Homo sapiens: one gene and its partners. The protein of the gene in region 1 purifies or fractionates together with the protein of each later gene. This does not show direct contact. Each region holds a gene or a part of one and is shown on either strand. Other genes may lie near its edges. The genes, in order: TRABD, FCN1, ATP2B2 and DNAJC11.

Region 1 (7,883 bases):
CGATTTCAGGAGACCCTAGACACTGCCTCTGAAGACACTTGTTCTCCAAGCACTGTCCCTCATCTGTAAAAAGGGATATCTGGCTTTGGAAACCATGATCCTCTGTGCAGACGAAGCCTCTGAGAATTCCCAACAGCCCCAGGAGGACATCTGTTGTGCGCAAAAGCCCATCCGTTAGGGCTCTGCCTGAGGTGTGCGGCCCTAGGACACAAAATCAGAGCGGCATCTACAGTCCTTTGGCGTCAGAGACGGCTGTCTGCATCCGAAATGTCCCGCAGGGCTTCTGTCCCAGGACCTGACATCCAGTGGGAGCCTCAGACAGCGCATCCCACCTGCCTGCTCAGGTCCCACTGCTACAGACTGAACTGTGTCCCCCAAAACCCACAGGTTAGAGCCCTAACTCCCACTATGAAGGTATTAGAAGGCAGGGCCTCCAGGAGGTGATCAGGTTCGGATGAGGTCATGAGTGCATAGCCCCCATGACGGGGTTAGTACTCCTGGAAGAGACGCCACGCAGCTCTTGCTCCCCCGGGTAAGGACGCCGCGGGGGCCCGTCTACAAGCCAGGAGGCTGCATGGCAACCAGGGACCAGCACCTTTGATCTGGGATGTCCGGCCCCTAGAACTCTGAGAAAATAAATTTCTGTTAAGTTTTTTCCCAGCACCAGTGAGGCATGGTGGGAGGAGCCTACTCGCTCACAGCCCCAGCTACTCAGGAGAGGCTGAGGTAGGAGAATTGTCTGAGGTCTGGAGTTTAAGACCAGTCTGGGCAACTTAGCGAGACCTCATTTTTTTTTTATTTGAGACGGAGTGTCACTCTGTCGCCCAGGCTGGAGTGCGGTGGCGTGATCTTGGCTCACTGCAACCTCCCCCACCCTGAGGTCCAAGCGATTCTCCTGCCTCAGCCTCCCGAGTAGCTGGGATTACAGGCGTGCGCCACCACCCCCAGCTAATTTTTGTATTTTTAGTAGAGATGGGGTTTCACCATCTTGGCCAGGCTGGTGTTGAACTCCTGACCTTGTGATCCACCTGCCTCGGCCTCCCAAAGTGCTGGGGTTACAGGTGTGAGCCACTGCGCCAGGCCAAGACCTCATTTTTGTTTTTGAGACAGAGTCACACTCTGTTGCCCACGCTGGAGTGCAGTGGCATGATCTCGGCTCACTGCAAGCTCTGCCTCCCGGGTTCACGCCATTCTCCTGCCTCAGCCTCCCGAGTAGCTGGGACTACAGGCGCCTGCCACTACACCCAGCTAATTTTTTGTATTTTTTAGTAGAGACGGGGTTTCACCGTGTTAGCCAGGAAGGTCTCCATCTCCTGACCTCGTGATCTGCCCGCCTCGGCCTCCCAAAGTGCTGGGATTACAGGCGTGAACCACCACACCCAGCCCAGCCTGCTGTTTTTTAAAGTTTCCTGGTCTGTGATGCTTTGTTACAGCAGCTAGAGCTAAGACACCCATCTTATCCCCTTCACCCCACTAGAAACTGCCTCCCAGACTGCAGCCTAGCTTCCTAGTGCAGACCAAAAACTGGCTAGCACCAAATGCAGTTACCAGAAAAACCCCCATCTCTCAACCAACCCACTAGACCGGCTCAGAAAGCCCAGGTTCCAAACTGGTCAGACCTGGGGGTTGCAGAAATGACAAACTTGGAGGGACCAGGGTGTGGCCCAGAGCTTTGACCTCCCCTGCTTCCTGTTTCTGATGCCTGGCACCTTTGGCCACAGGAAACCCCTCCCGGCTTTGGCGGGACCGCTTCACGCAGGTGTGGCAGAGCTGGGAGACGGGAAACACACCTGAGCCAGAGCCCGAGGCCTCCTTGCCAGCACACCTGGCAGCCCCCAACCTCCCAGGACCTGGTCACAGTCAATGCAGAGCCCCCACACTGACCACCATGCAGGGGGCCCCACAGGCTCCTGCCACCCACCCACCCTGCCAGGCCCCCTCCTCGGACCCCACAGCATCAGGGCCTCCGGCGAGGCTGGCCAGCATCCCCACCAGTCACACTGCAAGGGCGGCGGCAGCAAGCGGGGAGCAGAGACACACAGCGCAGTGAGCCTGGCGGCCTGCACGGCCTCTTCAGGGACCTGAAAGCTAGGAGGCTTCCATCTGGAGGCTACCGAGGCTGCGGGAGTCCCCGCAGGGAGCTTAGCACCTCCACAAGTTCCTGGTTGTTTCTGGGACGCTAGTGCCCAGACAGCTCCCACTCCATCTTTCTTGTAAGAGTTTTGACAAAGACACACGGCAGCTTCATGATAGCTCAGTTAAAAAGACCTTTTAAGTTTGGGCTGCGCACAGCGGGGGACGATCTGGCGTCCACTTCGCCCATATGGGAACCCCGCTCTGCTCCAATTGAAGGGCAAAGGCACCTACAGAAGAGCGAAGCCCCAGGTTTCAGCGGGGCCGGAGGGGACAACGGGGGTCCGGGGCCTCCCGCTCGGCCTCCCCCAGCACCCCCAGAGACCCGCAGGCCTGGGCCGCCTTCCTCCACTCTCACCTCGGCCGGCTCCACCGCAGGCGGCAGGCGGGGGTGGCTGGGGCCCTCCCGACCCGCGAGGACCCTGGGACTCGAGGTCCGACCCGCGCCTTCCCGCGAGGCCGCCGCTGACCCTCCCCGCCCCAGCCCTGGGGGGCTCCGCTCCTCGGCAGCGCCGCTCCCGGCAGCGGTGGCAGGGGACGCGCGGGGCCTGCTCCCGCCCCAAACCTGACCCGGGCCTGACCCCCACGACCTGCTCCCCCGGCTCCAAAACCTGACCCGGGCCTGGCCCCCCCAACGACCTGCCACCCCGGCCCCCAAACCTGACCCGGGCCCGGCCCCCAACGACCCTGGTCTACCAGCCCCAAACCCTGAATCTGACCCTGGCCTGACCCCCACGACCTGCTCCCCCGGCCCCAAAACCTGAACCTGATCCGGGCCTGACCCCCACGACCTGCTACCCCGGCCCCAAAACCTGACCCGGGCCTGACCCCCCCCGCCCCCGGCCCCCACCCCCCGACTCGGGCTCGCTCCCCCCGCCCCCCACAGTCACCCCGCGGCCCTGACCCGGGCCCGCCCCCCGCTCGGTGCTGGGCCCCGTCCTCACGCACGCGCCGTCCGCGCCGCGCGGCGTACCGAGGCGAGGCAGCGGCGCTCCTCAGCCGGCCTCCATGCGGCGCGGGCCCTCAACGGACGGGGCGGGCTGGGGCCGCGGGGCGGGGCGGGGCGGACGGGCCGAGGGCGCCGGCGGCCGCGTGGCATGCCGGGAAGTGTAGTCCCACGCGCCTCCTGCTTGGCCCCGGCCCGCAACTTCGGACTACACTTCCCAGGGGGTAGCGCGCGGGGCCCCCGCCCCCCCCCCCCCCCCCGGCGCTCCCGGGTCCTAAGGAACATCGGCGCGCACTCAGGAGGGAGGGTTCGAGTCCCGCCGCGGTCACGGCCTTGCGAGGCGCGCCCACGTTCTCTGGTCGCAGCTCCCAAGCTGTGAAATGGGGACAATGCTCGCACGGCGTCCACAGGATGGTTTTCAGTCGAATGATATTGAAATGTAACTGTTCTGTGAGCCGTCAGTCCCGCACGAAAGGGACAGCCGATAGTGGGACGCGAGGAGCCGAGAACACGGGATCAGGGAACGCGCTGCCATGGCCTCGGCCTGGCCCCCTTCCCTCTGGGGATCGGCCTAGTCCGTCCTCCGGGGGTCGGCCCAGAGCGGTCCCCGACCCGGGACTCATGCCTCAGCGGGACCTCGGCCTTGCCGCAGGTTGGGGCACCCCGGGAAGGTCGGGCCCCAGGGGCCCCGCGGCCAGCCTAGCGGACGGAGAACCGGGACCAGGTGGGAGTCTTAGGGCGGGCCGACCCCCGGCCTCACGGACCCGGACGCTCAGTCACTTCCGATCGTCCGGAGGCCTCCAGGGGGACCCGGCTGGCCGCAGCCACGCCGACGCTAGACTCTCGCTGTGCGTGTTCGGCCCCGAGGGCAGGGGGAGACGGCCAGGCCCCACCCGCCGCGCCCGTCCTGCCCGGGCGCCCGGCCCCCTCGCTGTACCCAGCCTCTACCGGGGCGGCCGGGACCCGGCGGCCAAGTTGCTGCGCGCTGCGGGCACCGGCGCGGACGGGGGCCCGGGCGCTTCGCCGCCGCATGCAGACGACTCGCTGCCCGCAAGCTGCTGCGCCGTCCGCCTGCCCCGCTCTCCTGCAATGGTCCGGCCGCGCATCCCGGGCCCACGACTTCCTTCCTCCTCCACGACCCCGGGTTCTTGGCTGACCTGGCGCTGGCGCTGGGCTTAGTGCAGGCGTGGGCCTGGCAATGGTTTGCCTGCGGGCTGCATGCGCGGACCCCACAGCCAGCTCCCCGAAGCTCTGCGCCCACCTCTACGGCCCTGCCCCAGCCAAAGGATCAGGTTCTTGGAGCGGGGCCTGCCCTGGGGCCAGGACTCCAGTCACCGGGGGAGGGCTGCTGTGTCTTCCTGCCAGGCACTGATGAGTTAGTTGGGGAAAGGGGCCAGGTGGGGCCAGCTGGGGAACCATTTAGAAGAGGGAGGAGGGCGCACCTCTCTACTCGAGTGCCCTAGGACTAGCTCCTCTCTGGAGCCACGGGGAGGACCTCAGTGAGGGCTGCCCCACGCAGGAACCTTCAGCGAGCCTGGAAGGCTGACCCAGCAGGCCTGGGGTTGGGGGAGTCCAACGCAGCGCCCAGGCTTGGTCTGGGTCTGCCTGAGGCCGTCCACCAGGACTCCGTGCTGGGGAGCCTGCTTCCTTCCAGGCTCCAGGAAGGGAGGCCCCGGCCCCAGCCCCAGGTTCTGAGGAGCTGCCCCGGCTCGGGTGGCCTGCAGGGGTCCCCTCAGGTCCCTGGTCCTGAGTCTGCAGGTGGTCCTCCCGGGGTGGGGCGGATGGGTGAAAATGCCTGTCCACACGGCAGCAGGCTGGGCTGGCTGCCCACTGAGCATTCTTACACAAGAGGCCCCGCCCCCTCCTACAGCTTCCTGGTCCCCAAATGGCCAGGCCTGGCCTTAGAGAGGCCTCTGTCCTCCTTGGTGAAGGACACTCACTTTGGGCCCTAGGGCCTCTGGTTCACATCCTCTCCATTGATTCTCATTGTTCGCTGCCTTTGTGGTCATTCTGCCTTTCCGACCATCTCGGCCACATCCTCACAGGAGGGCAGCGGGTGGCAGTCGCCCCGGCTCCACCTCACCCATTTCTCAGTGCTGGGCTGGTGTGGAGGGAAGATCCCTGGCCTGGGGGCTGGAGGCCTGGGTTCTCAGTCTTGGCCATCTGGGATGGGTGCAAGGTCCTCCTGGAGCCCCTCCTTCTCCATGAGAGGGACGGTTCTATCCACCTGCCAGGCCTGCTTATGCTCAGGGAGGGGGAGGGGCAGGAGGGGGCACTATTTCAAACCAACGCTGGCCCCCGGGCTGCAGAACGACCCTCTGACTCACCTGGGCAAGGTGGCCAGTTGGGGAGGGGAGAGTGTCCGAGATCCCAGCCCCCGGTGGGCAGCAGACAGTGGAGAAGCAGAACTGCCCTCCGATCCGGCTGGGGTCCCCTGCAGGGCTGCACTAGGCTGTGAGGGGCGAGAAGCAGAAAAGGGGGAGATTGAGTCCTCAGGGAGCGTGCTGGGGAAACTGAGGCAGGACCTCAGCCGCAGGCCCTGGGCCACCACCCACATCTCAGGCTGGGCTTGTCTTCTAAAGTTCTGCTCCCAAGCCTGCTTTTCTCTGGGCAGGCTCTGTCCCTTCTGCCGTGGGGGGCAGGCGGGGTTGCCTTGGGAAGAGGGTCAGGTGGAGGTGGAGGACGTGCACCTGGGGTGCCAGAGCTTTTGAGGCCCTGACGCCGGGGGGCTGGCCATGTGGATGCCCTGTTCCTGGAGCAGCCAGAGGAGGGTTTCTGGAGGTGCCCTGGGGGGAGTGAGGAGGAGTCCTAGGGAGGGTGGGGGCTCTCAGGAACAGAAACAAACTGTGTGAAGCCATTTGTGCTGGGAGGGACCGTCTTGGTCCCCGGCTGGCTTTGTCCTCAAGGGGTGGACCTTGAGGAAGGGCCAAGTCCCATTCGGAGCAGAGTGACAGATCCCACAGAAGCAGGCGTTGGGGCAAGGGGAGGGAGGGAGCCCTATGGGGGAAGGCGGTTGGGGCCGGTTCAGCCCTGACCCAGTGCCAAGGGTGAGCGCCACCCTTTCAGGCCTCTGCCCGCCTGCCTCTAGGAACGTGGCACAGCTGGCAAGGACACAGCCAGAGGAACAGGTCTGGGGATAAGGTGGTGATGTTACCTGGGAGAGGTGGGAGCCAGCGTCTCACTGTAGGACGGACACCAGCTCCCCAGCACGGGCCGCGCAGAGGGAGGGCCAGCTCCAGCACAGGGCAGGGTGCTCACTTGAGGCATGAACCTCTTTCCAGACAGGAGTTGGTTTCATACCTCCTGCCAGGCTGAGGCGCACAGGCGGGGGATGGGCAGTGTGGCTGCTGCCCATGGCCCTGGTCACATTGAAGTCTCCAGGTGGCTCCACCTGAGGCCTCCTGTGTCCCCCGGCTCAGCTCAAGCCCCACCTCGGCCTAGACGTTTTCTGGGCAGCGACAGCTCCTCTCACAAGCTGGGAGGCAGGGCCTGCGGGACTCAGCACCACGCAGACCGGCTGCCCCCAAGGACTACTGGACGTCTCCCTACCTGAGCCGAGCCATGCGGGATGCCGGGTGGCTGCTGGGGCAGGGAGGACAGGTGCAGGTGGGCGGGGTGCATGTGTGAGGGTGAGGAGGGTCCCCAGCCCCAGCTGGCGAGCAGCAAGGACGCCCATGGCAAACGCTACCTCTGGAGGCCGCCATCCCTCGGGTCTCCTCAGCTGCCATGTCCTGCCCACCCTCACCACTGAGCTGGTCTGTGGGTGCAGCACCAAGGTGATGCTGTCAAGGCCCAGGGCTCAGCCCTCCCTGCACAACCAGGCTGGCCTGGGCCGGGATCTGTGACACCGGGTCCCTCTCCTGGACGTGGGAATGCTGGGCACATGGGCATGCAGGCTGGGGAGGTGTCCTGACTTAGGTGAGCGTGAAGAACTGCTACTTTCTTTTTTTTTTTTTTGAGACGGAGTCTCGCTGTCGCCCATGCTGCTGGAGTAGAGTGGTGTGATCTCGGCTCACTGCAACCTCCGCCTTCTGGGTTCCAGCGATTCTCCTGCCTCAGCCTCCTGAGTAGCTGGGATTACAGGTGCGCGCCACCACGCCCAGCTAATTTTTGTATTTTTAGTAGAGACGGTGTCACCATGTTGGCCAGGCTGGTCTCAAACTCCTGACTTCATGATCTGCCCACCTTGGCCTCCCAAAGTGCTGGGATTACAGGTGTGAGCCACCGCGCCCGGCCGAACTGTGCCTTTTATTTTCTGCTTTGTTGCTTTGACCTCTGAGGCCTTGCTGGCCCTGGTGAGACTGCCTCTCCTAGGGCCCACCGATTTGTCAGCAAACAACTTCCTGTGCAAGCTCCTGAGTCCAGGGCCCACACCCCCTCCAGGCCTCCTCTGTGGGCTCTCACAGCCTAGGCCCTGTCCCCCTGCTCTTGTCACCCTGGGCTATGTACCCGACAGCCAGGGACAGCCCCTGCCCAGCACCCACCAGGGTGTCCACTCTGGAGTCCCGAGCCTGTGGCCCCACCCTGCCCATCCTTTGGTGGAACCACAGTGAAGGCTCTGCCCATGCTTCCCCCCACTGCCTGTGTCTGCGACGACCCCAGTGCCCTCCCGCGTGGCCCTGGGTGGCACGGGGTGCCCCTCCTTTGGGGATCTGAGTAGATTTTAAATTTTTTTTAGAGACAGGGTCTCGCGGTGTCGCCCAGGCTGGAGTGCAGTCGTGCAATCACAGCTCACTGCAGCCTCGAATCCCGTCCTCAAGCGATCCTCCCACCTCAGCCTCCCAAAGCACTGGGATGACAGGCG
Region 2 (7,896 bases), on another chromosome or scaffold:
ATTGTGGCAGGGGCGTAGTAGGGTCTGGTCAGCCCCCAATGGGCTACAAGGACCTCTCCTTACAGGTATTGAGTCAAGAACACTGGGCATCAGTGGAGGATGTGCCTGTAGCTCATGTTCCTGGATCCAAGCATGTGCAGTTTCTTTATAAGTAGTTTTTAAATTGTGGAACATAACATGTACTCAAAAGTGTATAAAGCAAAAGTACAGCTTAATTATTTTCATCACTAGTTAACAAACATCCTTACAATCACCACCTGGGTCAAGAAACAGAGCATTGCCAGAACCCCAGAGGCTTGTCCCTGTCCCTTCCCAGTCACCATGTGGTCCCACCCTCAAATACAATCACTTTCTTATTTTTCCTGTATACATTTACCACCTAAATATGCATCCAAAATACCATTGGCTACTTTTGCTTTTGAAAAACTTTATCTACAATGGAATCCATAGCACATACCCTCTTGAACAGGCTCCTTTTGCTGCCATGTTTGTGAGACTCATGCTCCTTGTGTGTAGGTGTCACTGTGTAATTGTCATGGCTGTATGGCGTTCTACCCAATGGCTATCCTTGCATTTTTTAACATCCATTCTCTTCCTGATGGGTATGTCGGCTGATTCCAGTTTGGTGCTATGGTGAGTATTTGGCTGTAAAGATTCCTGGCCATGCTCCCTGGTACACATGACGGCCATATCCAGGCCCTGATGTGGGACTGGCAGGTTAGAGGACTGTGTGTCTTCTTCTCCAACAGTTGATGCCAAGCCATTTTCCAGGTTGGTTCCATCAATTCGCATTGTTACTAGCAGTGTATGCAAATCTCCCTCCCACAGTCACCTTTGACACTGGTGCTATCCATCTTTCTAACTTCTGAGGCTCAGATGAGGGTGCCGCAGTGACTCCTTTGGGTGCTGATTTGCATTTCTCTGGTAAGTGAAAAGTGGAGCACTTTTTGATAAATACCTTGCTCCCCTGCATGTCATCTTCTGTGAAGTGTCTGTTCACATCTCATACCTTTTTTTATTTAACTGAGCTGCTCTAATTCTTTTATTATTTGCAGGAATTCTTTCAGGTATAAGCCTGTGATTTATTTATTTTTGTATAAGGCATGGTAGGCAGAATAATTCCCTGCCCCCACCACTGCCCCGCCAAAAATGTCCTGCCCTAATACACACAAAGTCAGAGCCTGCAAATACCTTCCATGGCAAAAGAGACTTTGCTGATGTGGTTAGGGATAGAGACCTGGACATGGGAGAGGATCCCAGATCATCCAGGTAGGCCTAGTCTAATCCCATGAGTCTCAGGAGTGGAGACCCTGTCCCATGGGGCTTGGGGGGAGAGGGGACAACGGATGAAGGGTCAGAGAGATGTGGTGCTGCTGGCTTTGGGGTTGGGGGAAGGAGTCCGGGCCAATGAATGCCAGTGACCCCTGGGGCTGGAAAAGGCAAGGAAGCAGGTTCTCCCCTAGAACCCTGGAAGGAGCCACCACTGCTGAGTCCTGCCTGCTGGCCCAGTAAGGCCCAGGGACTCCAGATCTACTGAGCCAGGAGGTGGCGAGTTCTTGTTGTTTCAAGCCACTCCATTTGTGGTGACTGGTTGCGGCAATAGTAGAAAACTAAAGATTTGTGTGCCGCACGTTGATTCTGCCCCTCTGGCCTTCCTTTGGTTCCCTTAGTGTCCTTCGGTAAGTGGGAGCTCTTGATTTGAATGGAGTCACACTTGCCACATTCCCTTTGATGCTTCTTAGGTCGTGGTTGAGAAATCTCCCCTGGCCTGGGAGCTGGAGAAGCCCCTTCTCCATCATCTCCTAGAAGCCTTGTGCAGCTTTTCCCACTGAGGTCCGCGGTCCCCTCTAGCTGAGGTCTGTGTGTGGGAGGAAGGCCTCTTCGGAATCTTCTCTGTGCAGGTGGCTGACCAGGCGCTCACTTAGTGAGTGCTAAGTGTTTATCTCTTCCCAGCAGCCAGCCAGCCCAAAGCATGAACTCTGCCGTGGTGGGAAGCAGAAAAGTTCCTACTAAACTTTCCCCCTTTTTAGTAAGTGTTTTCTGGACCCCAAAGTGACCTTTTTCAAGAAGTGTGAAGTGTTGTGAGTGAGGCATGGGGGGATGGGGGAGGCTTGGGGGTGGAGGTGAGGATCGCCCTGTGTCAATTACTGGAGGTGGAAAATCCTCGCAAAAGTCACTCAACCTCCCTGAACATCGGTAGTGCCATCTGCTAAATAAGGGTCCTGACTCTTCCCGACTTACCAAATTCCAGGGAAAGACCTGCCGTGCAACAGACACAGGAAAGTGATCAAAACCACTGGTGTTCAAGAAACACACATTGAAACTGGTAAAACTTTTCTGTCCCAAAGTAAACATATTTAGAAACATAATTCTCCCTCTGGTGAGGTTGTGGGCATGTGGCGGCTTGACTGAGCTGGGGGCAAAGGGGCAGCTGTGGGCGTCATGGGAGTGTGTCTGGCTGGGGAAATGGGGTGACTTCCACGACGCAGCGCTTGTGGGTGTGGCCTCCCCACTAGCAGGTGCATGTGGAGGGGTCCTGGCCCGTCTAGGCGGGCCGCACCTTCATCTCTGACACCTTGTAGCTATATTTGTACCCCTTCGCCGCACTCCAGTTGATACCATTGGCATAGCTCTCATGGGGTCCCATGAGGTAGAGACCATTGAGGTTTGAAGCATGACAGTCGGCGTACCACCAGGCTCCTTGGAACTTCTCAGCACAATTCGAAGAACTCACATCATTGTCTTGGTCTTTGGTGGAGAAGAAGTTGTTGTTGTGGCCCGTTAGAGAATTACCTGCTCACAGAAAATGTGGGGTTTGCAGATGCTGGAAAAAGCCCTGCCACTGTGAGACCCTCACCACATCCTGCCTCTGAGCAGAGCCAACCTCACTTTAGCGACGCATGAGCCGAGCTACAGGTGCACAAATGACCCACCCAGGCCTTGGAGGAAGGGGAAGCAGGAGGCAACCTCTGGCAACCTGGTCTGGAAATCTCTCTCCACAACCTGAGGCCCCTGCTCCAGCAACCACCTGTTTCCTCCAGGGCTCCCGCAAACTGTCAGGCCTCCTGCTCTCTCCTGGAATGACCTCCCTCCTCCAGCCTGCGCCGCTCCTTCCGGTCTCTCCCCACGTCCCCTGGTGGCCCTTGGTAGGTTCAGGACAGCCCTCACCTGGGGGCTTCTCCTCTATCTCAAGCCCTGAGCCGGAAGCTCATCCCTGGCTCCTATAGCTGAGAAATGTCACCCCCTGAGCCTCGGTTTTACCACCTGCAAAATGGGGGTGACCTTCCCTGCCCTGCTGCCTTCCTTGGAGGTCATGCGTGAGATCGTGCCTGTGAAAGGACTGCACAGACTCCAAGGCTGTCATTTCCAAGGCTCCCCTGGGACTGCCTTGCTCCATGGAGCAGTTAGTTACACAGACTTCCAGCTGCAGCAATTCTCAGTGCCTTTCACGAACGATGTGCACTGGGAATTCCCTAAGCAGACGCCCTGTAGGAAATGCCTCCCCAGATCGTGTAGCCAGAGACTCCTTTTGGTAAAGAATGTCCCACAAGGCTGGTGTTCCATGGAGCACAGTTTGGGAAACAGCTCCAAGGCACCCATGAGAAAAGGACGACGTCTTCCAGGTTTCAGCAGTGATGCTGGTGGGTCGTCTCAGCCCTGCCCAGGCAGCTCACTGTGCGGCAGACATAGCCTTAGGAATACCAGCCGCTATGTCCTGTGAGCCCCACGCTGTACAGAGACACAAATGCTAGTGTCTGCTTCATAGATGGAGAAATGGGATTCAGAGAGAGGAGGGCCCAAGGTCACCAGGGGAGACAGAGCCAGGTTCTCTCTGCTTTCCAAGCCCCACTCAGGCCACCAGCCCCAAGCAGACACTCACCCGCACTGCCCCCGACAAAGGCTCCCAGTACCAGCTTGTACTTCTCTGCCTCGTCAGCCACCTTGAATGATTTGTACTTAGCAAACTGGTGGTTGCCCTCAAAGTCCACCAGGTCTACACGGAGCTCGCTGCTTCCTGTTGGAAAAAGATTTTAAGGCCCCAGCCTTTAAGATCTTTCTGTCACCAGGCATGAGGGCTGGGGATGGGTAATTTTTTTTTTTTTTTTTTTGAGACAGAGTTCCGCTCTTGTTGCCCAGGCTGGAGTGCAATGGCACCATCTCAGCTCACTGCAACCTCCGCCTCCTGGGTTCAAGCAATTCTCCTGCCTCAGCCTCCCCAGTAGCTGGGATTACAGGTGTGTGCCACCACACACAGCTACTTTTTTTTTTTTTTGTATTTTTAGTAGAGATGGGGTTTCACCATGTTGGTCAGGATGGTCTCGATCTCTTCACCTCATGATCCACCAGCCTCAGCCTCCCAAAATGCTGGGATTACAGGTGTGAGCCACGGTGCCCGGCTGGGGATGGATATATTCTTAAGGGATGTCTGAACGTGGCATCCAGGAAAAAAATCAACCGGAAATGTCAGAAAATCCCTTGTTGCTATCAGGCCCTCAGGGATGGCTTTCTGTTTCTAAACACCTTTCCCGTTATTTCAGAGAACTGAACATGCCCCACTGGAGTTCACTGGGTGGAAGGGAGCATTCTTTCATTTTGAAAGTGTACCTTCTCCTTCTAAGGGTTGGTGAGCCACTAACACAGCAGTGGGCGAAGCTCTAATTGTAGTTTCTTTTGCAGGAATTTGAGGCACCTGAGTGGATTCCTTCAATCATGCCACAGGGCAGTGGGCAGGGATAATGGACCAGCAATTATACAGACTGCCTCAGGACCAGCTGTGAAACTCATCCCCTGCCCCAGAGGGTTGGGGGGAGGCCCTCTCACTCAGGTGAGTGCGGCTGTGGGGGGCCTGCTGAGGCGTGGGCTGGAGGAGGCGAGCGTGGGCTCTCCATGGGACTAAGATGCCAGCTTCAGAGGCAGATCAACAGCTGGAGATGGGGGAAGGCTACCCCAAGCCCCAGTGGTCTCTCTCCTGCTTCCCACTCTCAGGATCTAAGATGCCAGTAGGACCAAGACCTGAAGAGGCCTTCAGCCCAGGGCTCTAACCGTTTCCCTTCCCGATGTTGCCAGAGCCTGCGGCAGGGGACGCAGCCCTTAGAGGTCCCAGTGCCACCTGAGTGTGCTCAGGGCCCAATCCCCTGTGGGCCAAGAGGTGCTTATGTTGCAGATGGCCCAGGCCTAAGGGGCAGGAGCACCTCAGGGCCCCCCAACCCCTGAGCCACGGCAGTGGCCCTACCCTGGGCAGTCAGGGCGTGGATGTTGTCATTCCCCAGCCAGAACTCCCCCAGCTGACTGCCGAAGCCCTGCTTGTATGCGGCCCAGTCCCGATAGAAGTCCACAGAGCCATCCATCCTCCGCTGGAAAACCTGTGAAGAAGCCAGGATACAGAGTTAGGCGGGGCAGGCCGAGGTCCCACAGCACCGGGGACCCGCCCTCCAGAGGAGCAGCATTTGTAGTTGGCAGAGCATCACAGGCCGGTGCCACACGCACGCCCATCTGGTCTCCTCACAGACTCCACAGGATGAAAGAGGAAATGCGGTCTCAGAGAAGAGAGGCAACAAGCCCCAAGCCACACAGCAGGAGAGCACCGGTCCCCTCCCAGCCTCCCCGATGGCCTGGACTTTTACCCACGGGTCACTTCCCCCATCATCTATGATTGTCCCCATCCAGGGGAATAGAGAATTCCAGAGTGTGTTCTACAACCAGGTGTGCAGCCTGGCCTCCGGGACTCCCAGGCTGACCGCCTCTGCCCAGCCCCACACTCACGGTCCAGCCCCCTCCGTCCGTGTCCATGTCACAGAGCACAGTCAGGGGCCGGCAGTCGGGCAGGTAGATGGTGTGCCAGCCGCTCAGGAAATACCCCCGGTCTAGCAGGTCCTTGCAGTTGCGTGGGCCTGGGAAGGGAACCCGGGGAATGGCTGCAGGACGGGGGCCCTGGGCAGGACAGGGGCAGTGGGAGGGAGGCCCAGGAGGGAGGAGGAGGGCCACAGGCTTCTGTGCGGACCGAGCAGGACTCCGAGGCCTGGACAGGGACACGGCCCCCAGGGCCACGCAGCTGTGATGCCCACACCCAGTCTGCCGACCCTCCCACCTCCCAGTGTCTGCCCCACCTTTGCCTCCTGGGCACCCGGCCTTCTAGGGTAGATAATAGTAGAGCCCAGGTTGTCATGGAAGGGATTCAGGTGATAGCTGCCCATTACTCGAGTGATTGAGGGGGGGATGATAGGTGCAGACAGGGTTCTGTCCTTAGATTCCGTAGCGTGAACGTGTGCAGCTGGCCCCAGGGGTGGGGGCAAGGCTTGGGTACCGAGGTCAGGGTGTGATCAGTCACCTGTCGCACACGACTGAGACTGCCCAGCGTCTCCTGTGTGGGGAGAGGAGACACTTGTCATAAGCTTGAAATCAGAGCCTTTGTCCTGGTCAGCCCCAGTGGCTCCCTGAGCACAGAATAGAGAATGGGCAAAGGCAGCTCCTCTGATGTCTCCAGGACACGTGGCACAGGCCTAGGGAAGGATGGCCAGACTCGACTTCCCCAGAGGCACCAGCCACATGGTTGTCCATAGGCCCCTGCTGTGCAGCTTGAGCTTGGTGGGCTGTGGCAGGCGCTGCGGGTCCTGCTGGACGAACTGGACCCCTAGTGGGGCCTTCGCCACTGATAACAGCGGAATAACTCTTCAAGCCTGGCAGGGTCACTCCAAGCCTGCCCTGCCTCCGCCCTGGCCTCTGTTTCTTGGGACTCAGGTATCGGCGGACCCTCAGCCCCCGGCTCCGGTTTTCATTTGTGTTTGTGGGTGGAGCGTGGTACAGTGTATTAGAGTCTTGCACATTTGGCTTTTTTAAACTTTTACAATTTTTGCATAAATGAGCATAAGTAAGACAGAAATTGAAATATTGAAGTGTCACCATCTATGCACTGATGTGGTCCTGCTGGCCACTGGGAGTGACTGCTGTAGACACCAGGGTTTGAGCCCTCGTGGATTCTGACAACAAAGCCCGCTGGACTCCTTCCACCCCTCCCTGCCCACAGCCTGGATTGACAGGGACGTGGGCGGTGGGCAGGCGGACTGAGGCCTCTGAGACCCCTCCCCTGGACAAAGCCTGCAGAGACAACTGCCTGGGCCCACGGGTGGCTCACCTTTCTCTCCACGCATCCCCTTCTCTCCTCGGTCTCCTGGAGGAAGAGGCAGGATAATGAGCTTTTGACCCCAGATGTGTGGGCCACGGAAAGGCTGGTCCAGAGTGGGCTCCCGGCCTGGACACTGCATCTCCCCAGCCCTGCAGGCTCACTAAGGCATCACAACGCCCAGGTCTCAATGGTGGGGAGGGGCCCCGAGGCCTGGAATATCCCAGGGTCCCTGTCCGCCTGCCACTGTCTTTCTCTCTCTGTTGCCGTGTCTCTCTGTGTCTGTGTCTGTGTCTCTGTCTCTGTCTCTCCCTCCCTCATTTCATTACAGACAGCTCCAAGGTCCCTGCTCAAGGCCTCCTCGCTGTCTGTCCCCTGGTTACCTTTGGGCCCCACTGGTCCTGCCTTTCCAGGGGCTCCAGGGAGACCGCGTTCTCCTGAAAATTCCAAAGACATATCACTGAGAAAAATGCAACCTAAACAATTCTCCCTGGAAATCTTTGCCCCAAGTGGTTAAGTCCTGACCCTCCCCCACTCTGCCTTGAACCCCTTCTGGTTCCAGGAGCTCTCAGAATTGCTAGCCATGGATTTAGCCTGGGGGTGACTGCAGATGGAGGTGAGGGATTGAGGGAGGGGCCTGCACCCCACCTTGGGCTCAAGGCAAGGTGCACCTTGCTCCTGTTTGTGCCTTGGGAGCAACCTGGGTTTCACACTCTGTTGACCATAAGCCTGGACCCAAGTCACCCACACAGAGCTCTACTGCCTAGCAAGGGACC
Region 3 (7,896 bases), on another chromosome or scaffold:
CTGGAGATCAGCCCTAGAACATCTTGGATTCCTCTTTCAAAGGTGCTGCCCAAGGACATTAATGGAAGCAGATCTGGCCTGGGGAGAGAAACCCAGAACCCCAGAACCACAAGGGAGCAGAAGGCGCCCAGCCCATCCTTATTCTTATTCATTCACTCATTCTCTCCATAACTGTTTACTGAGGTCCTGCCAGGTGCCAGCCCTGCTCAGGACAGGCCTGGTCCTGCCCACGTGGAATTCATGGGCCAGGCTGCACGCAGCAGGCATTGAATAAGTGGTCCCTGCATAGAGCAAAAGGCTGCACTGCTGGCATGGGGTGCTCTGGACCCAACACTGCCTCTAACTTGGACTAGGGAGGCTTTAGGTCACAGGCCATGGAAGGTGGGATGGGCTCCAGGGTTGGTAGGGCCTGTGCTTGAGGCAAGGCAGGGAACTGCTCTGCAAAGGGCTAGAGGCAGAAGATCCCCAGATGCCTTCAAGGATCTGGGCCAGGACCTCGGGGTGGGAGAGGGAAGCTACAGGAGACTGGAGCAGGTGGGAGGGCAGCAGATCCTGCAGGGCCGCCAATGCCCACCACGAGCACCCCGTCATGGCCTGCACCGTGTCACCAGGCACAGGAACATGGGAGGGTTTAGAGGGTAGAAGCATCATTTTAGAAAACTTACCCTGCAGTGCAGAGCACGGCCTGGCAGTGGAGGGACCTGTAGGATTGTCCTGCTTAAGAGTTGTCACCTGCCCACAGTGGTGACACCTCAAGTGGAGCTGCCAGGTGCGGGTCTGAGAAAGTTTGGGTAGTGGAGGGGTCTGGGCTGGGTGGTGGTTTGCATGTCATGGAGGGATGAGGAGCAGGAGGGTCTGGGATCCCATCAGTCTATACCTGTTGGAGAAGAGCATTGGACATCGAGCGAGGAGGGAGAGCAGGCCTGAGACAGAGTCCTGGGTGGCACATGTGGGTGGGGAGAGAGGAGCTGCAGAAGCCAAGAGCTGCCCGAGTGATGGTGCAGGCTGAGAACCTACAGAGGAGGCCAAGGGGAGGAGGCTAGAGGGGCAGGAGGATGGTCAGTGGGGAGTGGTGCCGGGAAGACAAGGAAGGAGGCCTGTGGAGGAGGAAGGTGTGGTCCATGGTGGAAATAGTTGCTGAGAGGTCTGCGGGGACAGAACAGAAATGTGACCATAGGAAGCAGCCACAGGGAGGCCCCTGGTGACTGCACACAGTCAGGCCACCCCAGGACTGGAGGCAGGGAGGCGTCTAGGGAGAGGTTTCCTCCCAGCTTTCCGCACAGCTTGAGCTACGCAACGGTCCGCACCACCTGGGAGCCACAGGGCAGAAATTTGACCCGTCCCTGCCTTGGAGGAGCCCCCAGGCTGACTGAGGGAACTATGGAAACTCAGGCCTAATGTCCCAAGGGGACAAGCTTGGGGAGGCTGAGTCCAGGACGGTGGAACTGAGGGGTCACCGACAGCTGGGTGGGAGCAGCCCAGAACGATTCCCAGAACACACGGCACTGCAGCTGGGCCTGAAAGAGGGTAGAGCTGCAAGGGAGCAGGTTGGGGGCACAGTGCCCCAGGTTATGGAACTCAGCGCCTCATTCCACAGGCTGCTGCCGTCTGCTAGGCACAGAGCAGAGAGATGCGCAAGGATGGAGCAGCACATAGAGTTACATGGATCTGATTAAGGGCAGGCAGGGATCCTCAGAGGGTCAGAAAGGCTTCCTGGGAAAAGCAGCCTCTGAGCCAAAAATACAGTACAGGTGGGTGACAGGAGTACCTCCAGCCAAGGGAACAGCCTGCCCAGACACAGGGCCAGTGAGAGCTAGCTCTGTGGGACCGTAAGCACAGATTGGGGGTGGCCAGGGGATGAGAGAAGAGAAGAGGTCAGGATGTGAGTGAGGCCTGGTCACAGAGGACTTCATAAGTGGAGCTAAGAACATGGATGTTATCCTGAGACCAAGGGGGGAAGCAGGAAAACGACATTCCGGGGATGGCTGGGGGACGGAACTGGTTCAGACATGGGTGTTAGAGAGATCCTGAGGTTGCTGTGGGGAAGCAAGTTGGAGGGGGAGTCCAGAGTCAGTGAGAGGAAACAAAGTGATGCTGGTGGCAGAGGGTGGAGACAGAGAAAAGGAAGGGTTTCAGTGGGATTTTGGAGCCAGAATTGGCAGGCCTTGGTGATACATTCAATGTGCAGAATGAGAGACCCATGGATGCTGATACCCAAATTCCTGTCGTGCCCATGGACATCCCTGCTCGCAAGCCCCATGAATGAGGAGTCCCACAAACTCCACAGGTCCCCACCGATGACATCCTTCACCCACCCTTTTCCACTGGCCCCAGCTCAGTGACTGGGGCCACATGTCATTTGTTCATTCTGTTATTCGTTGAATGTTTTATTGAAGATGAATGTCTGGAGGGAGGTCAGGGCCAGAATGGTGGGGCAGAGGTCACTGGCAAATGACAAAGCCAAGGCCTCCTCAGCAAGCCTGGACTCCCCAGGGAGAAAGTGCTGGCTAGTGGTGTCGGGAGGAACAGATGGTGAGGTCCTGCTGAAACCCTGGGAGCCCTGCTGAGGCAGAGGGGGCCCTGAGCACAGTTAGAGGATACAGTGTTTCTGGTTAGGATGGATGCCAATGTGGCCACAGGTTGCAGACAGCAAAGAGGGGGCTGGAGAGGTGAGCAGGGCCCGGGCCACAGGGGGCCCCAAGTCGGCACCAGCCCAGTAAGGAGCCCACTGTAACCTGCTGGCAGCTATAGGCCAGCCTGGAGCTGGGAAGAGCCTGGATGGAGGGGGCGGCTGGACAGGGACCAGAGAGGAAGCCATGCCCAGCCAGGCCCCTCCCGAGGACCAGGGCTGGCCCAGGCTGCCTCCCACCTGAGTGGCCCAGGGCCTGAGCACACTCCTGCCCCAACAGGCATCATCGACAGCACACACACTGAGCAGCGGCAGGTGGTGGCCGTGACGGGGGACGGGACCAACGACGGGCCTGCACTCAAGAAGGCCGACGTGGGCTTCGCCATGGTAGGAACGGCCCACAGAGGGCCTGGGGTGGTGGGGGCTGGGGAGATTGGACTACACAACCTTGGGCTGGCTACTCAGGAGCCCCAGTTCACACTTGGCCCACCCGCCATCTGCCGTGGGTGCCCACCCTTCTCGAGACTCAGCCTGACCCCGAGGTCTTCCTGGAAAGGCATAGGATGCTTCTTGCTCTGGGGGAGCTGTGTGAAGGGGGGCACTTGCAGGCTGAGGAGGAAGATAACAGAGGGGGAGAGGGGGCCAGGGTGAGGCTTCCTGAGGGTGAAGGGAGCTGGGTCTGTGAGGAGCGTGAAGAGTGGGGTGTCCCTGTGTGGTCTGGCTGTGCTGGGCCCACTGGGAGTTGTGTAGGACTGAGGAAGTGGAGGGAGTGAGGATGGTGATGCTAGAAGTGGTCACCTCCCCCGGCCACCCCACCCAGCCTCCTGTCCCTGTCCCCACAGGGCATCGCAGGCACTGACGTGGCCAAGGAGGCCTCAGACATCATCCTGACAGACGACAATTTCAGCAGCATCGTCAAGGCAGTGATGTGGGGCCGCAACGTCTATGACAGCATCTCCAAATTCTTGCAGTTCCAGCTCACCGTCAACGTGGTGGCCGTGATTGTGGCCTTCACAGGCGCCTGCATCACGCAGGTGGGTCCGCAGGAGACCACACCAAAGCCTGGGGGAGGGCGGAGACCCCCCACAGAGGCTCGGGGGCCTTAGGGTACTCCAGGTTGTCCCTGTCAGAACAGCCGGGGATGAGGCACCCATCGATGGAGCACCTGCTGGGGGCCAGGAACTGCATCACAGAGCTCAGGTGCAGGCACTGGCCCCAGGGGAGTCGAGGACATGAGGCTCAGAGAGGTGGCGTGACTTGTTCAAGGTCACCCAGCAAATGGGAGCTGTCAGGCTCACAGCCTGGCCCTCACTGCAGGAGGCAGGAGAGGGAATCCTCAAGAGAAGGCAGGGCCCTTGGCCACCACGAGGGCAGAGGGAGGCAGGGAGGGGCAGGCCAGGGCCCAAGGGGGATCAGGCATCCAGGTGAGGACAAAGAGCCAGTGGGGGCCCTGGGGCCCTGGCTCTGGACTGGAGTGTGGAGTGCCTTAGGAGGTGCTAGGTGGGGATAACTGGAGGGAGTCGGGGATCTTGCTCACTGGGAAGGTCACAGAGGAGTCTGGCCAGATACCACGACTGGGTCTGGAGCAGCCCTATGCACTGAGCCTGGCAGGCAGGCCCCAGATGTCTGCAGACTGACTGCTTCTTCATGCAGCTCCATGAGGTGGGAACTGTGATGATCCTCATTTTACAGAGGCAGAAACTGAGGCTCAGAGGATGGACTGGCCAGGGACCTGCCATTGTTCTTGCAGTCTCCTGATACTCCCCACAGGGGCTGACCAGCCTGGCCAGGGAGGCAAGAATGGGTCTCCCTTAGCCCCAGGGGATCCCCAAGGCCCAACACTCCCAGTAGCCACCTGGGCAGACAAGCCCATGCCCACAGGAGCCCCCAGAGGCCCAGAGTGCAGCACTGCCCCAAGAGCTGTGTGGCGCTGGAACACTGCTCCCCTCTGTTGCTTCCTGCGCTGGGGGAATATAGGTGGCAGCTCCGGCTACCCCAGCCCTGAGAATCGGAGCCTTGGGAGGGTGGCTGGGGGCTTCCTTTTGCTCAGAAGGGCCCTCTTTCCTGGCCTGTGGATGAGACACTCCCTCTAGTGGCAGCTTGAGGAACACTCCTGCGGCCCCAGCAACTTGGAAACCAGAAGGTCTTGATGCCAGATAGGGAAACTGAGATTCTGAGACCACTATCAGTTTGCCTGAGGTCTTTGATTGAGTTGGTGGCGAGGCCATGCAGCATTGATAAGAAGACGGGCACACTTGACCCTGAGGTATATGGAATTAGAGAAAGCCCGGGGTGGGGAGGACGGGGGCAAGGGGAGCGAGGCTGAGGCAAGGAGGAGGTGAGAGAGAAAGCCAGGAGCAGGGGCTGTGATGAAACCTGGGAGGTGATGAGTGGAAGGGATGCAGGTATATGGGGCTTTGGGAGAGAACAGAGGTGGGAAGAGCATCGGGTTTGGGCTGTTGAGCTTACAGGGTCTGGGGGCTTCCTGGAGGAGGTGTTCCACAGGCCACTAGACGGATGTAACTAAAGCCACAGGACGAGGAGGAGAATGGGGCTGAGGCAGGAACACAGATTTAAAAGGAAGGGAGGACGACGACCAGGAGAGTGGGGTCAGGATTACAAGTGGGAGTGCAGGGGCGAGGTCAGTGACATCTGGCCGAGAAGAGGTCCTGCAACTCGTGGCACAGAAGGTGCTGGTGACGTGGGCGGAGGGCATTCTGGGAACGTGGAGGGGCCAAAGTCTGGCTGCTGTGGACAAGATACGTGGGGGTGTGAGGAAGGATGGGGACAGAAGAACCAGCTCCTCTCAGCCAAAGAGACAGGTCTGAAAGGGTCCCTCCCAGAACCTGGACAGTGGTGACCTAAAAGTGGTGAGGTCCTTGACAGTTTTAGTTGCTTTTGCTATTCCTCATTTGCCATATTTCCTACCTTGAAATGTATTAATTTTTGAGTCATAGATACGCACAATAATTTTTTAAGGTAAGGCGGGATAAGAGGGGAGGAGACATTGGGGGGGTGGGGGACGGGCACTGTTTGTAGGATAGAAAGCCCGAGGGGGAGGAGGCAGTGGGGGGAGGAGGTAGGAGCCCATGCCGGAGGCGGTGGGAATGGTCTTGGCCTCAGCCAGGAGAGACCCCCTCCTCGGGGGCTGGAGGGGAGAGGGGAAGATGGTGAGATGCAGCTGAATTTACCAGAAGGCAGGGAGCTGGTGGCCATTGGGCCTGGGGGGACTCACTTATCTCCTGGCAGGGAAGATGTGGCTGAGGTGGGCAGGTCTGCACTGTTCTCCAGAGAAGGCATCAGAGAACAACTCCATGCCTGCTGGGGAGCCAAGGGGCAGGTCGGACTCCAGCCTCCAGCAGGAGCCTGCGGACACTACACCATGAGCCCGCCCAGCACTTCACAGCAGCAGGTGGGCGCACAGGTGACAGCCCTCTCCTGCCCGTCCCCAGGACTCCCCTCTGAAGGCCGTGCAGATGCTCTGGGTGAACCTCATCATGGACACGTTTGCCTCGCTGGCACTGGCCACTGAGCCGCCCACGGAGACCCTGCTGCTGAGGAAGCCGTACGGCCGCAACAAGCCGCTCATCTCCAGGACCATGATGAAGAACATCCTGGGCCATGCTGTCTACCAGCTTGCCCTCATCTTCACCCTGCTCTTTGTTGGTGAGCGCCTCGCCCACCCACGCCTCTCCCAGGCGGGGTCATCACCTTCTGGGTGCACCATGGCTCTCACCCAGCATTCTCGAGTCACAACCCCCTCCTGTTTTGCTAATGGGGAAATTGAGGCCCAGGGAGGTCAAGTAAGTTGCCCAAGGTCACACCAGCAAGTCTTGAACAGGGCCTGGCCCTGTCCCAGCTCTGGCTAACCCTAAAGCCATCAGTGGCTTTCTCCACTGGTGACAGCTCCTGGCAACAAGTACAGACCGTGCAAGGCCCTGACCGGGTGCTGAAGCACTGCATGGCAGCCCCAGAGGCACCTGAGGCTGGGAGGGGAGTGACTCACCCCTTCTCTGACCCATTCCAGCACCTTATCCTGGCCCCGTGGAAGGGACCCTCAGCAAGGCTTCCTGGGGCAGGGCATACACGCTCACACCACCACCGACTCTCACAATGCTTCCACTTGGGCTGCCTGGTTGGGTCTTCCACTCAGTGAGGCAAGCACATTTGCCTCCACCCCACATTACAAACGAGGGCACCAAGGCTCAGAGAGGTGAGGTGACTTGCCCAAGGGCACACAGCCAGTCTGAGGAAGAGTCTGGGCACAGAACCAGGTCTGGCTGGGGCCAAGACTGGCCTGGTTTCCACAGATGCTTCGGAGGCAATCCCAACAAAGCCTATCCCCAGGTCACAGATGGGGAAACAGAGGCCCAGAGAGGGGAAGGGTCTGGCCCGCAGTCCCACATGGAATCAGGGCCAGTTCTCTCCTTACAGGAGCCTCCCGGAGCTGGCCTTTCACTTGTCCTCAAAGCCCAGAGTGTGATGGAGGTGGGCATGGATCCATTCCTCAAAGGCAGTTAGTTGCCTTTTATAAATTTTGAAAGTAGTGTGTTGTCAGGACACATTTTACTGTTGTAAAACTTATCATGAAAAAGCTTAGAGGAAGCCACTTATATGCAGAACTAGAAGAGACTCAGAGGAGGTGGAGGGGTTGGAGAGGAGAGGAGAGCGGGGGTCCTGGTCGGCTTGCTGGCTTGACCACTTGAGCAGCACCTACCCTGGGTAGTCTTGGGACATCTCACACCCAGAAAACTCCACAAGCCTCCTGGCACCACTTTACTCAGCTGTGCAAAAGGACACAGGACTTGGCCAGGTGCAGTGGCTCATGCCTGTAATCCCAGCACTTTGGGAGGCCGAGGCGGGTGGATCACTTGAGGTCAGGAATTCGAGACCAGCATGGCCAACATGGAGAAACCCCATCTCTACTAAAAATACAAAAATTAGCCGGGCGTGATGGTGCGCACCTGTAATCCCAGCTACTTGAGAGGCTAAAGCAGGAGAATCACTTGAACCCAGGAGGCGGGTGTTGCAGTGAGCTGAGATCACGCCACTGTCCTCCAGCCTGGGCAACAACGAGACTCCATCTCAAAAACAAAACAAAACAAAACAAAAAGGATACAGGACTGCATCAGACACCCTATCAGCAGCGTCTACACAGCAGTGCCCTGCCATGTGACAGCTCAGGTGTTAGAATGAAGCCACATGGGAGGGTCCAGAGCCAGCCTAGCCCAGAAGTCCTGGGCTCCATATAGGAATTGGCATCTCTA
Region 4 (7,896 bases), on another chromosome or scaffold:
TAGTAGAGACAGAGTTTCACCGTGTTAGCCAGGATGGTCTCGATCTCCTGATCTCGTGATCCACCCGCCTCGGCCTCCTAAAGTGCTGGGATTAGAGGCATGAGCCACCGTGCTCAGCCAGGAAGCACTGCTTTGGTGCCTAAGCGGCCTCCGCCTGCCCCACAGGCCACGTCCTCCTGTTTCGCAGGCTCTCTCCCAACTTCTCCTGCTCTCCCTACAACAGGCTGACCTGCAAGCCTGCCTGTGTTCTCTGCCCCATGCCCCACAGACAAACGACCAGACTAGTGGGCAGGGATTAGGTCAACCCCTGCAGAGCGTGGCAGGCACACAGATACATGTCTCATTGGAAGTGTAATAACTAACTTTTTTTTTTTTTTTGAGACAGTCTTGCTCTGCTGCTTAGGCTGGAGTACAGTGGTGTGATCTTGGATCATTGCAACCTCCGCCTCCTGGGTTCAAGAGATCCTCCCACCTCAGCCTCCCAAGTAGCTGGGACTACAGGCAAGCGCCACCATGCCTGGTTAATTTTTATATTTTTAGTAGAGGGGGTTTCGCCATGTTGGCCAGGCTGGTCTCGAACTCCTGTACATGTTTGTACATGTTTGTACAGCCTACAATACATGTTTGATAAGAAAGTTATTCATGCCACTGTGCCTGGGCACAGTGGCTCACACCTGTAATGCCAGCACTTTGGGAGGCCAAGGTGGGAGGATCACCTGAGGTCAGGAGTTAAGAGACCAGCCTGGCCAACAAGGAGAAACCCCAACTCTACAAAAATTAGTCAGGCATGGTGGTGCACACCTGTAGTCCCAGCTACTCAGGAGGGTCACCTGAGCCTGGGAGGTTGAGGGTGCAGTGAGCCAAGATTGCATCACTATTCTCCAGCCGGGGTGACAAAGTGAGACCTGTCTCAAAACAAAAAACATATACTCCAGGCTTGCTGAAGTGGCTCATGCTTCTAATCTCAGTGCTTTGGGAGGCCAAGGTGGGAGGACTGCTTGAATCCAGGAGCTTGAGACCAGCCTAGGCAACATAGAGATAACTTATCCCTAAAAAAAACTAAACAATGAGCCAGGCATGTTGGCACACGCCTGTAGTCCTAGTTTTTCGGGAGGCTGAGGGAGGAGGACTGCTTGACCCCAGGAGTTCAAGGCTGCAGTGGACTATGATCGGACTATTGCACTCTAGCCTAGGCAACAGAACAAAACCTCGTCTCTAACAAAAATAAAGTAAAATAAAATAGGCCAGGCGTGGTGGCTCACGCCTGTAATCTCACCACTTTGGGAGGCCGAGGCAGGTGGATCACCTGAGGTCAGGAGTTCGAGACCAGCCTGACCAACATGGTGAAACCCCATCTCTATTAAAAATACAAAAATAGCTGGGTGTGGTGGCACACGCCTGTAGTCCCAGCTACTCGGAAGGTTGAGACAGGAGAATAGCTTGAACCCAGGAGGCAGAGGCTGCAGTGAGCCGAGATCACACCACCGCACTCCAGGCTGGGCAAGACAGAGCAAGACCCTGTCTCCAAAATAAATAAATAAATAAAATAAACTCCATGTGCTCCATTCTAGGACTCCTTCAGCTATATCTTCCTCTGGAAGAAAGAGGTATTATTTACCCTCCACCAATTCTTTTATCTGAGCTCACACAGACATCACTGCACCCACCATATAGGAAATGAAGACACTGCTGTCGTTCTAGAAGGGACAGGGATATACAGTTCTAGGAGTGTGACATGGCAGCAGCAGAGACGACAGGAAGCAGAGGCTGGCTGGGGACTACATCTCTGGCATATGTCAATCAACCCGATGATGAGGCAGTCTGTCATTCTCTGGGACAATGGAACGATCCATAAGTCTGTAAGTGTTTCGGTCCACTGACCAACTCTCCCTGAAGGCACTCTTTCTCCGTGGCCTTGTGGCATAGGTAAGGGAGGTGCGAGACCTGGATGGTGCAGCCTGGCCAGGGCTGGGACAAGGGTCCGGCCCCCTCAATCCTGCCTCTTCCCACCTGCACACTGCCTGGGCTTCACGCCAGTGCTATACCTGCCCTTGATGTACGCAGTGACCTTGTAGGACAGACAAGATAGTGCCAACCACTGTGATAAAAAGAACACACAGTTCTAGTCTCCTAAGCCAACAAAGACCACCAAAGAGGAGCTGCTGTCTCTCATATTTACCATCTTGGTGTGAGATTACGGAACAGCTTGAGACCGAACAAAGGCCCCTGTAGGTCTCCAGCTCCAAATTCCAACTGTTTGAAAAGGAAAAAGAGAAGGCATTAATGGTGTTTTATCTCATAGCAGCAACCCAGGCTCAGGTATGTACCTCTAGGTATAATTCCTTCATTCAATTCACTGGTCTTGCCAGGGCTCTAAAAGAAGGGGGTGGAAGATTGTTAATGTCTCATCTTAACCTTTGCCAAATGGAGCTGTCTGCTGCCACAGATCCAAAGGAGACCCAGGCTTCAAAGGCACATGTTTCATTGGTGTCCCTCCAAAGAAAAAACTGCTCCCCTCTGTTCCTTGCCTCCCAGGCTGAGGTCAGGAGACCAGCTGGCTCCCCCTACCCCTCCCGGCGCAGCCCCCCGCCACCTGCAGAGCACCGACTGCGGTCCGGTGTGCCCCCCACCCCCGCATGCACTGCCGACTCCTTTTCATTTTCATCCTGCGCCAAATGTCTCCCAGGTCACTGGGGCGGTCCTCAGGAGCCTGATGTTAAAGCCCAGCCGCGGTTCCACACCCGCACAGCCTTGGAAGTCACAGCTGAGCCTGGCTGCCGTGTTTACTAGTCTGGGTGACTTTCAAGCAACTCTTCAATGTTAATTTGATGCAGCTCAATTTGCTCGGCAGAACTGGCTGTTAAATGGCCACCAATCAGTGAACCATCACGCGGAAGAGAGCACCTGCCTTCTGAATTGTGCAGGAAAAAGAGCCCACAGGCTTTTTGCTCAAAGGGAACAAACACACGGAGTTTCAGAGGCTGGATTTCTAGAAGTTGGCATCTCATAGGAAACCTTGTTTTTCTATGCCAATTTTAAACTGTGAGGAAGACTGACAGGACTTCTCAGATATGAGACCTATTTATTTATTTATTTTTGAGACGGAATTTTGCTCTTGTCCCCCAGACTGGAGTGCAACGGCGCGATCTTGACTCGCTGCAACCTCTGCCTCCTGGGTTCATGTGATTCTCGTGATTCTCCTGCCTCAGCCTCCCAAGTAGCTGGGATTACAGGCAGGTGCCACCATGCCCAGCTAAGTTTTGTATTTTTAGTAGAGACGGGGTTTCACCATGTTGGCCAGGCTCATGAGACCTATTTTTCTTTTAGGACCAGTCAACTTATGGAAGCTTGACACTTGGTACCGTTCTTACACAACAACGGGGCCCCCAGGGTGAGTTTGAGGGTGAGCTTTGAGAGTGTAAATGTTCAGAAATAAGGCTTTGCACAGACAACACAACTCAGCCAATAGACATTCTTACCTCTCCCCATCCCTTTGCCGAAGTTACTCGTCTGAGCGCAAAGTTAATGGAACCTCCTCCATTTCCATTCTGGGTTGAGAGGCTTCCAGAGAGGATGGCTGTGTCTGTCGCTGTCAAGGGTGCCTAAAAATGGTATTTGCTGGTAATGAATGAATCAAAACAACAGGAAGTGCCAATGGCAGCAGCCTAAAGAACGCACTGTGAGCCCAAGGCCAAAGGTGCAGACGATTCCTCTGTTCAGAAGCACACATGGATGCAGAACTGCCGCAACAGCTTCACTTTTCTTCCGCTTTGTTATTTGGTCTGCATGTGACCACGAGGGTAATATGCTTTGCAAAAGCTTTAATGGGCACATTTCACAACACCAGGGGAAACATGGGGCTGCATGTCCCAATGGTATCAGATAGCACAGTGACTTCACTGTGTGCCTTCCCTCTGTGGTTTGCCATCAGGGTTCCAGGGGGACTGAAGACCTTCCCATGGCTGTATTCTGTATCAACTGACTCAGGGAGCTCCAAGAGGGGGCAAATTTCCCCAAGTTAGGACTCCACGTTGTTGGCTGATGCAATGGAGAATAAATTAATGAGCTGAGGAGACAAAGACCTACTATAAACGCTCAGGAGAATGACCTGACCTCGTCACATCCAAATAGTGGGCAGAATGGTGACATTTTCGCGTGCCCAGGGCTCAGGATGAGAGCTGCTATAGCCTTGCGGCACCTAGCAGAATTTGCCTTAAAACTAAAACTGGTTGTTAGAATGATCCATGGAGGTCTGCTTTCTCTCCCAGAACCCCATGACCTTGGGCCTCTACTTCTCCCAGACCATTAACACCCTCTGCTGGAAAGGCCCAAGACCTTGGGAGCCAAGTGCCCCAGCCCACACTCCTGCTGGCTCACATGCCAGCACAGCGGTAACACACGGCTGGGAATGAAGCGCTTTCTTTTTTAAGTGGCTAATTGCATCCTTTCATAAATAAAGATGAGAAAAACCCTGGGCAGACTCTCATTCCAGCTGCTTGGTGTGCTGTGCCTCATTAACTCGAGCCCTTGCTGTACTCGGAGAGGTGGTTGTGTGCTTTACCTCAATGGACTGGGATATGTGCATTTTATTAATTTCAATCTGCGGAAAGCTACTGCCGGACACATCTTCATACTCCTCATCATAGCGATCAAAAAGGTCGGTGGCATCTACTCCAACGCTGATCGTTCCCTGGGGCAGAAAAACAAGCCGTCAGCAGAACGGGTGGTATTTGTGGAATGAAAGACAATGCTACACTTCAACAGCCAGCTCGCTTTAATTGAACAAGTCATTTGACTTCAGGGTTCACTGGGTTTAGGTAGGACACTCCACCAGGAAGCCCACAAAGCATGAATGTCACAGTCCGAACCAAACTGCAGAGCACCACAGACGTCCAGAGCTAGAAAACATCATTTGACCAGGAGAGCCGGTCCGCATGTCTGCAGAGCAATGACACGCCAAAGACAAAAGTGTTAGTCAAAGGAGTAAGAGCTAGACAGTTTGATTTTCAGAGACCAAACAGGACCCAAGAATGCACAAAACCACCTAGAAATGAGCTACATGGATTAAACATTTTTTGGTAAACAACCTTATACCACAAAACTACCCTAAAACTCTTTAAATAAAAATACCTTCAAAGATAAAGCAGCACAAATTATGAACAAATGGGAGACTTTAAAATTAATCCACCTTCTCAAATTAATGAGAATTAAGTTTGAGAAACAGAACACTGTATTTGCTCAAGGAATTCTAAGCTAAAATTTTGCTGATAAAAATGCTTGTTACTCAGAAAATCAATGTTTATTATTCTTTGATAGTCACAACTTTAAAAACGGACATTATCTTAATCCAGTATATAAAACCATGGCCACACACATTTTTTTAACTAAACTTTTTGCAGCCCATTGAAACAATGTTTTTTTGCTAGCTTTTCTTTTTTTTTTTTTTTTGAGATGGAGTCTCGCTCTGTCACCAGGCAACATTAGCCATTAGTCCAGTGCAGTGCAGTGGCACGATCTTGGCTCACTGCAACCTCCGCCTCCTGGGTTCAAGCGATTCTCCTGCCTTAGTCTCCCGAGTAGCTGGGACTACAGGCGCACGCCACCATGCCCAGTTAATTTTTGTATTTTTAGTAGAGACAGGGTTTCACCATGTTGACCAGGATGGTCTCGATCTCTTGACCTCATGATCCACTCGCCTCGGCCTCCCAAAGTGCTGAGATTACAGGTGTGAGCCACCGCGCCCAGCTGGTGCTAGCTTTCTATCAGATGCTTCAATCTGAAAATGCATTAACCCTAATAATTACTTGATTTCTGTTGAGGGTGAAACACCTGACATTATGAATGCTACTATAAACTCAATCAAAAAGTTCCACATTAAAGGTAAACGTGTTTGTTTTTGCGGTGATATTCAAATACCAACTTGGAGGCAGTATAGTGTTATGGTAAAAAATTTTCTTATTAAATCAAGAAACCCATGGACTAGAAACATCCTTAGAATTAGTTGTAGTGATACGCATAATGCATAATTGTGTCAAAACAAGCTGTGGTATTCTACCCATGGAAAATGAAGTTGTAGTTGCCAAAATTTACAAATTTTTTATATTCACAGAGTAACAGCATGAACACATCTCTGTCATGATGATGATTCTGAATAATCAACAAAACTGCATGGCAGTATATGAACAATCTGTGGCCAGGTGTGGTGGCTAATACCCGTAATCCCAACACTTTGGGAGGCTGAGGGAGTGGGATCACCTGAGGTCAGGAGTTCGAGACCAGCCTGGCCAACGTGGTAGAAACCCTGTTGCTACTAAAAATACAAAAATTAGCCAGGTACACGTCCCAGCTACTCTAGAGGCTGAGGCAGGAGAACTGCTTGAACCTGAAAGGTGGAGGTTTCAGTGAGCCAAGATTGCGCCACTGCACTCCAGCATGGGTGACAGAGCAAGACTCTGTCTCAAAAACAAGAACAGGCCGGGTGTGGTGGCTCATGCCTGTAATCCCAGCACTTTGGGAGGCCGAGGCAGGCGGCTCACGAAGTCAGGAGTTTGAGACCAACATGACCAACATGGTGAAACCCCATCTCTACTAAAAATACAAAAATTAGCCGGGCGTGGTGGTGCGCACCTATAATCCCAGCTCCTCAGGAGGCTGAGGCAGGAGAATTGCTTCAACTTGTGAGGCAGAGGTTGCAGTGAGCCAAGATTGTGCCACTGCACTCCAGCCTGGGCAACAGAACAAGACTCCGTCTAAAAAAAAAAAAAAAAAAAAAATTACAATCACTGAAAATAAAGCTTGTAATGAAAAATAATCTGAAGCTGATCTTTTTAGGGGGAAAAAAACCATACAAAATAAATAAGAGTTTATGAGATATAATGAGATACAATTTTGAAATTCCATAACGGCATTTTGGAGTATCTTTATTTTGTGTAGGAATCTTGGTGGAGCTGTCATGTTTAATTAGGTAAATTTATATTCTGTTCAAGAATGAAATGGAATTGAAAAGGTCTACAGTTTTATAGCATCTAAATTTGATAAAACATTCAAAAGATCATAAATAAAGATGATTTAGAAAAATGTGTCAAAGAAAACTGTTGTGAATAAAGTTAAAAAGACAATACCTGTCAAAATACTTGGGCCAAGATATTTTTATGTTCTAATATGAAGAAATTTAGAATTGAGAGAATATTTTCTAAATTAAAAATATGATATACAGAGATGAATCAATTAAATGTGTCAAAAATTTCAGCTGAGTGCTGTGGCTCACTCCTGCAATCCCAGTACTTTGGGAGGCTGAGGTGGAGGGATTGCTTGAGCCCAGGAGTTCGAGACCAGCCTAGGCAACATGTTGAGACTCTGTCTCCACAAAAAAAACTAAAACCAAAAAAAAAAAAAAAAAGTTTAGCTGGGAGTGGTGGTATCCGCCTGTGGTCCCAGTCACCTAGGAGACTGGGAGGATTCCACTGGGAGGTGGGAGGATTCCTTGAGCCCAGGAGGCCAAGGCTGCAGTGAGCTGTGACTGTATCACTGCACTCTAGCCTGGGTGATAGTATGAGACCCTATCTCAAAGTAAAATATAACTTGCTAAATATAAATGCAACTTTCATAAAGATGGTAGGCAATGTTATAAAAGAAAAAGACACAGGAAATACACTCTTCAAAAAATAGTGTGACACACTGTGGAAGTCAGATCAAAGGCCTCCTAAGGAACCATGCCTGCGGGTACTCACACCCTTGTACAGAGCCCTCTCCTTGATCCTGAACCTCTCAGGTTCACAAAAGCAACTCTCAGACTTGCTTTTGTCCAACAGAATGCGTGGATGTGATGGTGCTGACTTCAAGACCAGCTCACGAGAAGCCTTGCAGCTTGGCCCAGGTCTCTAAAATGCACTATCT

The links.
Region 2: the proteins of TRABD (region 1) and FCN1 purify together in Homo sapiens (affinity purification with mass spectrometry; 2 studies listed by BioGRID and IntAct, with this or other methods). This does not show direct contact.
Region 3: the proteins of TRABD (region 1) and ATP2B2 purify together in Homo sapiens (affinity purification with mass spectrometry; 3 studies listed by BioGRID and IntAct, with this or other methods). This does not show direct contact.
Region 4: the proteins of TRABD (region 1) and DNAJC11 purify together in Homo sapiens (affinity purification with mass spectrometry; 3 studies listed by BioGRID and IntAct, with this or other methods). This does not show direct contact.

Annotation. Positions count from the first base shown.
Region 1 is NC_000022.11:50,181,200-50,189,082, reverse strand, and holds the start of TRABD (traB domain-containing protein), read right to left. Parts: upstream 3,171-7,883; 5' UTR 3,107-3,170; exon of another isoform or gene 3,038-3,106; intron 1-3,037.
Region 2 is NC_000009.12:134,907,253-134,915,148, forward strand, and holds part of FCN1 (ficolin-1 precursor), read right to left. Parts: intron 7,558-7,896; coding exon 7,504-7,557; intron 7,169-7,503; coding exon 7,133-7,168; intron 6,362-7,132; coding exon 6,329-6,361; intron 5,892-6,328; coding exon 5,764-5,891; intron 5,364-5,763; coding exon 5,234-5,363; intron 4,016-5,233; coding exon 3,881-4,015; intron 2,794-3,880; coding exon 2,546-2,793; 3' UTR 1-2,545.
Region 3 is NC_000003.12:10,341,151-10,349,046, reverse strand, and holds part of ATP2B2 (plasma membrane calcium-transporting ATPase 2), read left to right. Parts: intron 1-2,909; coding exon 2,910-3,016; intron 3,017-3,471; coding exon 3,472-3,663; intron 3,664-6,081; coding exon 6,082-6,295; intron 6,296-7,896. UniProt on the Homo sapiens protein: ATP-driven Ca(2+) ion pump involved in the maintenance of basal intracellular Ca(2+) levels in specialized cells of cerebellar circuit and vestibular and cochlear systems.
Region 4 is NC_000001.11:6,649,350-6,657,245, forward strand, and holds part of DNAJC11 (dnaJ homolog subfamily C member 11), read right to left. Parts: intron 4,691-7,896; coding exon 4,562-4,690; intron 3,603-4,561; coding exon 3,480-3,602; intron 2,254-3,479; coding exon 2,180-2,253; intron 1-2,179.